2 separate regions of the Homo sapiens genome follow, and region 2 is reported to be linked to region 1. The links are microRNA targets in miRTarBase. Many come from high-throughput screens and were not tested one by one. Region 1 holds a microRNA gene; the other region holds the end of a gene's coding sequence.
Evidence for each region. Region 1 holds the annotated microRNA hsa-miR-4770 (UGAGAUGACACUGUAGCU, at 2,260-2,277, shown strand). A microRNA usually pairs through its seed, bases 2 to 8, with sites in the 3' UTR of a target mRNA and lowers its output. Matches are read on the target gene's strand: a 7mer-m8 pairs with bases 2 to 8, a 7mer-A1 pairs with bases 2 to 7 and ends in A, and an 8mer does both.

Region 2: the mRNA of CLEC17A is a reported target of hsa-miR-4770. Seed matches in the 3' UTR shown: 7mer-A1 at 1,496-1,502 and 7mer-A1 at 2,863-2,869.

Annotation. Positions count from the first base shown.
Region 1 is chrX:6,380,808-6,386,183 of GRCh38, reverse strand. It overlaps MIR4770 (microRNA 4770), which reads left to right and starts at 2,221; the gene lies at 2,221-2,278.
Region 2 is chr19:14,609,136-14,614,511 of GRCh38, forward strand. CLEC17A (C-type lectin domain containing 17A) reads left to right here. Exons shown (of 14, transcript NM_001204118.2): 14 at 929-2,900. The coding sequence ends at 1,061. It also overlaps a transcript of ADGRE3 not described here. Among named protein-coding and RNA genes, the nearest start is that of SNORA104, 10 kb to the right of the region's middle. RefSeq lists a silencer at 5,091-5,140.

The sequences.
Region 1 (5,376 bases):
ACTGAATTTGCATGGAGATGGCATATGTCGAGGATTTCAACAGGGCTGCTAAGTTTCTCCAATTGCCTTTCCAATGATCAGCCAAACATCGTATTGGTCAGTACATATATGATTTTAAAATGTAGAATTAGAGAGAGCAAAATAGAGAGAGAGAAAGAAAGCTAACTATAAGAGATATTTAGATAATGCATGTTTTGCAGTGAGTTTGACATTATAATTGAATGACTTCAGACATTACAATGGCATCTACTAAAATGTTTTCCACAGGCTGAGATTGCTGCCTTGCCCTTGGTCTACCCCCAAGTTTCTCAACCATCCCACTGTCAGAGGCGTTTGAACCAGAGCAACTCCACTATCTTGAATAGGGGCTGGGGAAAGTAAGGCTGAGATCTGCTGGGCTGCATTCCCAGAAGGTTAGGCATTCTTAGTCACAGGATGAGATAGGAGGACGGCAGAAGATACAAGTCATAAAGACCTTGCTGACAAAACTGGTTGCAGTAAACAAGCCGGCCAAAACTCACCAAAACCAAGATGGCAACAAAAGTGACCTCTGGTCATCCTCACTGCTCATTATATGCTAATTATAATGTATTAGCATGCTAAAAGACACTCCCGCCAGCGCCATGACAGTTTACAAATGCCATGGCAACATCCAGAAGTTACACTACATGGTCTGAGAAAGGGAGGAACCCTCAGCTCCAGGAACAGCCCACCCCTTTCCTGGAAATCTCATGAATGGTCCACCCCTTGTTTGGCATATAATGAAGGAGTAATAATAAGTATCCTCGGTGGAGCAGCTCAGTGGAGTAACCATTCTTTTTTTTTTTTTTTTTAACTTTCTTAATCAACTTGCTTTCACTTTACTCTATGGACTCACCTCAAATTCTTTTTTGTGCGAGATCCAAGAACCCTCTCTTGGGGTCTGGATAGAGACCCCTTTCTGGTAACACCACTATTGACATTTGGAAGGAGATATTTCTTATGATGGGAAGCTGGCATGTGCCCTGTAGTATCGCTGGGCCTCTGCCTGCTAGATGCCAGGAACAACCTCCCAGCGAGGACAAATAAAAAACGTGTCCAGATATTGCTAAACATCCCTAGAGGACCCAGTTGCCTCTGATTTCCCTTGAGTAGCTAAGCATAGCCAGAACTTACATTTGTATAAATGAATGAAAGAAAGAATAAGTCATTTTCCTAACAATGGTTACTTTACATTTGAAACACTAGAGCCCTTTCCCCACTTCTCTTTATGAACACAGAGATCGCCTGGAAAAAGTCTATGCACTTAACCCTTCTACTAGGTGGCTTTGGGTATAGAAGAAAAAAGCCCCACACCCCGGAGCAATCAACATTTAGGAAAGTGAAATCACAGGAGAAAGAGGGTGTCATACAAGTCGCTACTAATTTCCTTGACAAACGCTGTTTTGAGGAGCACTGTTAACTCTCTGAAATCTCTGTTTTCTCCCTCCTGAAAGATTTTTAGAGAGGATTCCTTTCAAAATTGGGTTCCGGGACTCCGTGTTTCCAGTGGAATGCTGTCACCATGAGACCCCGTGACGCACTAGCCCAGGAATGCCGGCAATAGCCAAGCAGAGCCCTGTGCCTGTTCTCTTCCTGGCACAGAGGCACACAAAACCCAAGCAGGCCCACCCAAGTCAGATCCTGGGCTGTGGGAAAGCCTTAGTGAATGAGCTCATTGAAGTGGAGAGATGAAAATGAGGGAGCTCTGAAACTGGCAGGGCCTGCAGAGGATTCCTAGGGGCAATTCCTCTGCCCAGAAAACAAGGGAAGGGGCCTAAAGCCCAAACAAGGACCCTCCTGATTAGTAGGGAGACAGAAAGCTCCACTCTCTTCCCCTCGCCCCCGCCCCCCACCCCATAAAACAAAGCTATTCGGGATGCTTCAATTGCCAAGTAGTGCAACAAATCACTTTGCCAAACGTGAACTCTGAAGTCAGGGGTGCTCAGCTCCGGCAAATGCCACTCTATGTCTGCTCATCCATGCAAGACGCTTTGCAATGAGAATGTTTACACTAGCCCTCCGTAAAGCACACAGTTACAACCCATCAGGAGGTATGCAATCAGCAACCAGGATGCACTGTCTGCTCTGGGCTTAGAGGCTATGAGCTAGGGCCATTTGCATAACTGAGTCAATGAAGGTGGTGAAAAGGGTTTTGATTCCTATCTTGCATGTGGAATCTCATTCTCTCTTAGAGATAATGAGTTATGGGGTCATCTATCCTTCCCTTGGAAAATGATCTGAGATGACACTGTAGCTCCCCATCCTCTGGGATCATTGATGTCTGTAAGATTTTATAGGAAGCAATTGAGTTGAGTGTACCCCCTTTCCCCTGTCCTCAATCTAAGTGATAATCTCTGGCACCCCAAAGGGTGTCAGACTGCTTTGTTGATCTTAATTCTGGAATCCCTCTAATCCCTAACTGGGCTTCCCACAATACCAGTGCCCTGGCTTAAAGGAGGTTTGCAGTATGCACACATCTCTGAGGATGGCTCAACTCTCCTGGCCCCCAAGGAATTCCAGGTATTCCATCCCTCTTAATACCTCCTGAAGTCTCTTAACTTCCACCAGACATCTTGTAATTCAGCCTAGATGACCAGATTTGCGTTTGCACCTGTCAATCAGCCTTTCGAGTTCTTGATGGAGAGAATGGAAAACATTCCGTTCTTACCAGACAATTCCTCTCCATGCCACAGAGCTGGCAGAGCACCTAATAGTGATGCTGGGTAAAGTGGCTCTCCAGGGGCACTGGGCTGCTACAGTTTTGAGGACAAGCACCCACACACAGCCAGTGGGCCCCAGGGCAAGCGCACTGTGAGGCGTGAGACTCTACCCAGTAAAGCTGGAGCCTTCAACCCCATAACTCCACCAACATTTGAAAACTCCAATTGCCTCTGGAAGATACTGCCGCTTTCTTCTCCAGGAAAGCATCTTCTGTCTGCTGAGAGTAATATTGTGCGTGGAAAGTCCCTTACCACGTAGTGTTCAGACACTGGAGAAAGGGAGAGGGAGTCATCACTCTGAGAGAATCCACGAGAGATCTGTGAAGCTGATGGAATTTCAGGGCGCAGGGTGTCCTATTCATACAGTAGACCTGAGTGTGTTCTGCTCACATTCCAAAACAACAGGACAGGGGAGGTAAGGACCTATATAGAGAGCCTCTGCCTATATAAATCAGCTTTCCTTCCAAACCATAAAGCCAAGGAACACTAGAGCTGTGAATCCTGGGAAGCATTTTGATTTTGTGTTCTTTCACATCTGTCTCATTAACATACGAAATAAAGTTAGTTAGTTGCAGGTTGTTTCTTTTTAAAAAAAAGAACAAGACAGGTGTAAAATCTATAAACACCTGCTAGATCAGTAACTGCCTCTCAACAAGACCAGCTGGCACATCAACATCTCCAGGAGATCATATCTTAAATGTAAAGTGAACAGTTAATGTTCCTGAACTACCTCTTATTTTAAAGCCATAGGAAACCTTTTGCGGGGGGGTGGGGGGCATCTCCCCAAACTCCTGCGCATGACAAGAGCTCTGCACAAAAGATAGGAAGACCCGGTCACCCTAGGCCACCTCAGCAAGGCGGTTGGTTATGTTCTGCTGAGAAGCCATGGAGCGATTATGTGAAGAAAGGCTGTTCTCTTTACCGGTGCCAAGAAAAAGATTAGATAAGAAAAGGTCACTGGGGCAAGGAGGGGTGAGTGGTTGTTTAATTTTTAACAAACATTGCGCACTCCATAGCATGGCTGTTTCCCCCACTGTATGATGTTTCAAACATTAATTGAATAAAGGGATGGTCTAAGCAAAGGTAAAAGTAGCCCTAAACAGAATGTTCCTTTGTGATCGGCGAGAATAGTTTGGGACTACATAGTCATGGGGCCTCAGAAGGACAGAAAGTCTACAACCAAGTTTGTGTTTTTTAAATGATTAGATCCAATCTGTGGGTATTTGATAAGTTGCCAAAACATTTCTTTAAATGTGTCGGCTGGGTGCGGTGGCTCACGCCTGTAATCCCAGCACTTTGGGAGGCTGAGGTGGGAGGATCACTGGAGCCCAGGAGTTCGAGACCAGCCTATGCAACATAGGGAGACTCCCATCTCTACAAAAAAATAACAAAAAATCGCCAAGCGCCTATAGTCCCAGCTGCTTGGGAGGCTGAGCTGGGAGGGTCGCTTGGACTCAGATCAAGGCTGCAGTGAGTTATGATCGCACCACTGCACTCCAGCTTGGGTGACAGAGCAAGATCTTGTCTCAAAAAAAAAAAAAAAGGACAGATGTTGCAGGGATGAAGAGTAGGATGAGGTGGGTGGAGGACATCTTTGGGGAAATGACAGGGAGCCGGTGAGACAGAATCCAGAGATGTAGAAGGGAAGTCAGCACAGACATTGGCCTAAGCCCTCCTTGTAAGGGACTGCAATGTAAAACGAAACCTTTCATACTACAGGAGACTCCACGGACTCCTTAACCAGAGCAATAAGGGGAAATCTAGCAGCAGTTGTAATCTTAAATTCCTTCTAAGAGGCAGAAAAGATAAGACACATACACAGAGGAGAAGGCCACGTGGAGATGGAAGTAGAGAGTGCAGTGATGTGGTCACAAGCCCAGGGAAGCCTAGAGCCCCCAGGAGCTGGGAGAGGCAGGAAGGTTCCTCCTCTAGCATCTCTGGAAAGGACTGGATACAATTGTAGTGGATTGAACAGTTGCCTCCAGAAAGATAAATCCACATCATAAAGCCCAGAACCCGGAATATGACGTTATTTAGAAAAATAGTCTTTGCAGATTTGTAATTAAAGTCAGATCTGGAGATGAGATTATTCTGACTTACGGTGGCCTTAATTCAATGACCAGTGTCCTTCTAAGAGACAGAAGAGGAGACATGGACACAGAGGAAAATGCCACGTGCCACATAGAGACAGAGGCAGAGACAAGTGATATGGCCACAAGCCTAGGGATATCTGAAGCCCCCACGACCTGGGAGAGGCAGGAAGAGTCCTCCCCTAGAGCCTCCGGAGGGCATGCCACCCTGCCCATACCTTGTTCTCAGACTCCTGTTCTCCAGGACTGGCAGAGGATATAATTTTTATTATGTTAAACCACCCAGTTTGTAATGATTTGTTACAGCGGTCCTAGAAAACTAAAACTAATAAACTAGTACAGATTCATGACACTACTGTGTTGATTTGCCTCTGCAGAGAAGTAGGTACCATCCAGGCAAGGATTCAAAGCGGCTGGTAGAGAGCTGGGCTCAGAGCAGGAGGAAAGGCCAGGCTTTTGCTGAACTCCTGGATGGACACAAGCTGTGGAAAGGTCACCAGCAATTGGCTGCTAAGAAGACAGGTCAGTGTGTTTACCTGATAGAC
Region 2 (5,376 bases), not on the chromosome of region 1:
TCCGCAAAGCTATTCTCAGCTGAATGGGAGCCTGCTCACCTAAGACACTACCCAACTCCACTGGGGTCAGCTCACAACCGGTGACAGCCTAAGAGAAGCCTGGACCCCTTGTGACAAGTTGGGATGACTCTGGTGCTGTTGACATCCCAGTGGTCTCTGTTGGGGTCAGGCTGAGGCTAGAGTCATCTGAGTCCATGCTCCTGCTCAATTCCTTCCCCTTCTCCATCTAGCTTCCCTCACCTCTCTCCTAAGAACATCCTTTAATAAATCCTACACACTCGAGTCCCTGAATCAGGCCCTGCTTTAAGCAAGAGCCCACATGATCTAAACAATTCCTAGAAGGTTGGGTTGGGAGGTTGTAAAAGAAAGAGTCCTTGGAAGACAAGACAGAAACTGACCAGATTCAGAAATTGATTAAGGGGCCAGGCACGGTGGCTCGTGCCTGTAATCCTAGCACTTTGGGAGGCTGAGGCGGGCGGATCACTTGAGGTCAGGAGTTCAAGACCAGCCTGGCCAACATGGTGAAACCCCGTCTCTACTAAAAATATAAAAACTAGCCGGGTGTGGTGGTGGACACCTGTAATCCCAGCTACTTGGGAGGCTGAGGCAGGAGAATTGCTTGAACCCAGGAGACAGAGGTTGCAGTGAGCCGAGATCACGCCACTGCACTCCAGCCTCAGCGACAGAGTGAGACTCTGTCTCCAAAACAAAACAAAACAAAACAAAAAACCCCCCAAAACCAGAAATTGATTAAGGGCCAGGCACGGTGGCTCACTGTGCCCGGCTTACAGGTGTAAGGCTCCACACACGGCCTAATATGGGTTTTGCCAAATGCGTAGTGCCAGGTATTCATCATTACAGTATTATACAGAAGAGTTTCACCACCCTAAAGATCCCTGTCCCTCTGCCCACTTTTTCCTCCATCCAGCTTCTGGGAGCCAGAGGAACCCAATAACATCCACGATGAGGACTGTGCTACCATGAACAAAGGTGGCACCTGGAATGATCTCTCTTGCTACAAAACTACGTATTGGATTTGTGAGCGGAAATGTTCCTGTTGAAGCCCAGGGCCGAGGCTGGGGGTCCATATCTGAGTGTCTCTTTGAGATGAGAATCTCCTGCCCTTTCGTGGACGGCCTTGCCTCTTCGTGAGTGGACACACAGATGTGCCTCAAACAGGATTGGCACCCTGGATGCAGCAAGTTCCCAGGGGTGCAAGTCAGGCTGTTTCTAGAGTGAGGACTTGGGCTTGCCCTAGTAGATGGTGAGCTGGGAGGATGCTCAGAGCTTGGTGGTGGGAGGTCTCCCACTTCTGGGGTTGAAAGGATCTTCACTAAGTTCCTGATCATGACTCTTGGGAAGTGATACTAGCCCTGAGGACCCTGGGGCTGGTGTTGAACCTGGGATGAAATATCCTGGCGCCTGTGAACCACAAAGAGCTGGGACTGGGCTCCTTTTCCTGCAGCCTCAAACTTCTGGGCTCAGGTGATCCTCCCATCTCAGCCTCCTGAGTAGCTGGGACTACACATGCGCACCACCATGCCTGGCCAATTTTTTGTAGCATTTAAAGAGAGGGAGTCTCACTATGTTGCCCAGGCCAGTCTCAAACTCCTTGCCTCAATGGATCCTCCTACTTGGGCTTCCCAAATTGTGAGGATTACAGGTGTGAGCCACTGTGCCTGGCTCAAAATTATTATTATTATTTTTATAGAGATGAGGTCTCACTCTGTTGCCGAGGCTGGTCTCAAACTCCTGGGGTCAAGCAATCCTTCCGTGATGGCCTCCCAAAGTGCTGGGATTACAGGCATGTGTCACCGTACCTGGCCGATATTTTTATTTTTATTTTTACTTTCCCCATCTTTTCCTTTTTTTTTTTTTTCCAAACAAAAGCTTTGAAAGTGGTGACAGAAAAATTTCCCTTTGAGCTAGACCTCTAGATCTGCCTCGCACAGAAATACATTAAGTGGGCTGGTCTCATGTAGTCCCCACATCATTGCAAATTACAAACCTAAAAATACAGAACATCAGCGGAGAAGACAGGAGAGCTTCTATATTCACCCCATGTCGTCCTCTCCAGACACTGCTTCCTTCCTGGTCTCAAACAGCACAAATAACCCAGAAACCATCAAAATTATTTTTGACCAGCAACTTTCTCAATGTCTTGGGTGAGGTTTGCACAAGCTAAGTGGCAGAATCAGACTTTTGCCAGAAGACTTGGCCCGTGGAACTTCTATCCTTTTTTTTTTTTTTTTTTTTTTTTGAGATAGGGTTTCATTCTACTACCCAGGCTGGAGTGCAGTGGCACAATCATAGCTTACTGCACCCTCTGCCTCCTGGGCTCGAGTGATCCTCCTGCCTCAGCCTCCCAAGTAGCTGGGACTACAGGCGTTCACCCTCACACCTGGCTGGCCCATGGAACTTCTAGAAAGGCATACCAGCTGAAAAGCAAGACCCCTACATAGTGTGGCCAGGCAGGCCATAACCTGGTCATATCCACACAGGACAACGATGGACCTATCTGCCAGCACGTGCCCTTGAGCTATCTGTGGGTTGTAACGTCTTTGATGATATAATTCACTTTACTTGCCAGGCACAGTGGCTCACGCCTGTAATCCCAGCACTCTGGGAGACTGAGGTGGGCTGATCACCTGGGGTCAGGATTTCGAGACCAGCCTGGCCAACATGGTAAAATCCTATCTCTACTAAAAATACAAAAAAATTAGCTGGGCGTGGTGGCATGTGCCTGTAATCCCAGCTACTCAGGAGACTAAGGCACGAGAATTGCTTGAACCCAGGAGGCGGAGGTTGCAGTGAGCCGAGATTGTGCCACTGCACTCCAGCCTGGGTGACAGAGCAAGACTCCATCTCAAATAAATAAATAAAAATAAAAATTCACTTTACTTCTGTGTGGACTTTCCTGGGCTATTAGCTCTTGCAATGTTAGTGCTTCTCAAAATGCCACTATGTTGGGTGTTCCTTGTCTACTGTGTGTTAGTTTGCTGGGGCTGCCATAACAAAGGACTGGGTGGCTTCAGCAACAGAATGCATTTTCTCACAGTTCCGGAGGCTGGATGTCCAAGATCAAGGTGTTGGCAGGGTTAATTTCTTCTGAGGCCTCCTGTCTTGGCTTGTAGATGATCCTCTTCTCCCTGTGTCTTCACCTGGTTCTCCTTCTGTGTGTCTGGGTCCTAATCTCCTCCTCCTCTTCTTTTGTTTTTGAGACAGGGTCTCGCTCTGTCACTCAGGCTGGAGTGCAGTGGTGTGATCTCAGCTCACTGCAACTTCCACCTCCCAGGCTTAAGCATCCTCCCGCCTCAGCCTCCTGAGTAGCTGGGATTACAGGTGTGCACCACCGTGCCTGGTTAATTCTTGTATTTTTTGTAGCAACGGGGTTTCACCATGTTGCCCAGACTGGTTTTGAACTCCTAGGCTCAAGCAATCTGCCCACCTTGGTCCCCCAAAGTGCTGGGATTACAGGCATGAGCCACTGTGCTGGGCCTACAACGACCACTTTAAAGATCCTGTCTCCAAATACAGCCATATTAGGAGGTCCTGGGAATTAGAATTTAAACATATGCATTTGGGAGGGGTGGCACAATTTGGCCCATAACATTCACAAACTGCCAGAGTGACCCCCACCCGACCCTCCTGCCCTGGCCATGTGACAACCAAAAAATACCAATTAGAGGGCTGGTACTACTCCCAGCTAGGCATAACTCAACATAGTATTCCCTTTGGACAATCCCTGAATTGCATCCAAGGGTGGGTAGACATTCTCCAAACCAATCAATTTATTTTTTTTTTTTTTGTGACAGAGTCTTGCTCTGTTGCCCAGGCTGGAGTGCAGCGGCGTGATCTCGGCTCACTGCAACCTCTGCTTTCCAGGTTTAACTGGTTCTTCTGCCTCAGCCTCCTGAATAGCTGGGATTTCAGGCACGTGCCACCATGCCTGGCTAATTTTTGTATTTTTAGTAGAGACAGGGCTTTGCCATGTTGGCCAGGCTGGTCTCGAACTCCTGACCTCAAGTGATCCGCCCACCTCAGCCCCCTAAAGTGCTAAGATTACAGGCGTGAGCCACCATGCCTGGCCTTATTTTATTTTTTGAGACAAGGTCTCACTCTGTCGCCCAGGCTGGAGTGCAGTGTTGTAATCATAGCTCACTGAAGCCTCAAACACCTGAGCTCAAGAAATCCTCCGTCCTCAGACTCCTGTATAACTAGAACTACAGGTGTGCCCCCACCACACCCAGCTAATTTTAATTTTTTTTTTTTTTTGTATAGACAGGGGTCTTGCTTTGTTGCCCAGACTGGGCTTAAACTCCTGGTCTCAAACAATCCTCCTGCTTCAGCCTCCTAAAATACAAGGATTGCGATCAATTTATTGATCAATAAGCTCCCTTAATCAATAGCAGAATCTTTCCTGTTTTGTCTGAGAACAGGTGCTTATAGCAAGGAGACTGTGAGGAGAGCAGGTGGTGGGAGAGGTCGGAGCTGATTTCACTTCCTGTTTCTTTGATTTGTTTTAAATCTACTTGTTCTTTTATTTCGTTATTAAAAAAATTTTTTTTGAGATGGAGTGTCACTCTGTCACCCAGGCTGGAGTACAGTGGCATGATCTCGGCTCACTGCAACCTCCTCCTCCTGGGTACAAGCGATTCTTGTGCCTCAGCCTCCTGAGTAGCTGGGATTACAGGTGTGCGCCACCACATCCGGCTAATTTTTGTATTATTAGTAGAGACGGCATTTCGCCACTTTGGCCAGGCTGGTCTCGAACTCCTGACCTCAAGTGATCCACCCGCCTTGGCCTCTCAAAGTGCTGGGATTACAGGTGTGAGCCACTGCACCCAGCCTCGTTATTTATTTTTAAGAGATGGGTTCTCAGGACGTGGCCCAGGCTGGAGTGCAGTGGCATTTCACAGGCACGACCCCACTACTGAGTTTTGGTTCTGTCTGTCCTCTCTTCTCACCTCTGCCCACCTCTGCAGCTGCCCTGATGCATCACTACCAAAGCCAGCTCCTGTACTGTCCGCAGCCTGCTGAGTGGGTGGGTGTCGTGTTGTAAACCCTCCACCCAGGGGACTGTTATGTCAAGCAACTTTATCTGGGGTCAGGGGAAGTTCCCACATTTCAGAAGAGGGAAGTTGTTTTCTGATATGCGTATTGAGAAATGGGGAAGCAGGGGTCTGTGGTCACGTCTCTAGGAGGCCCCTGGTGGAACTGGTCCCAACCTATCTCCCTTCCACATCTCTCATGATTATCTAATTGCAGAGAGGTAAATATGAAAGAGGTCACTTTTTACCACTTTAGGTCCAGGGGAGCAACAGTTGGATAAAAATAATAACCATGGTTTATCAAACATATATTGTGTGGTAAATA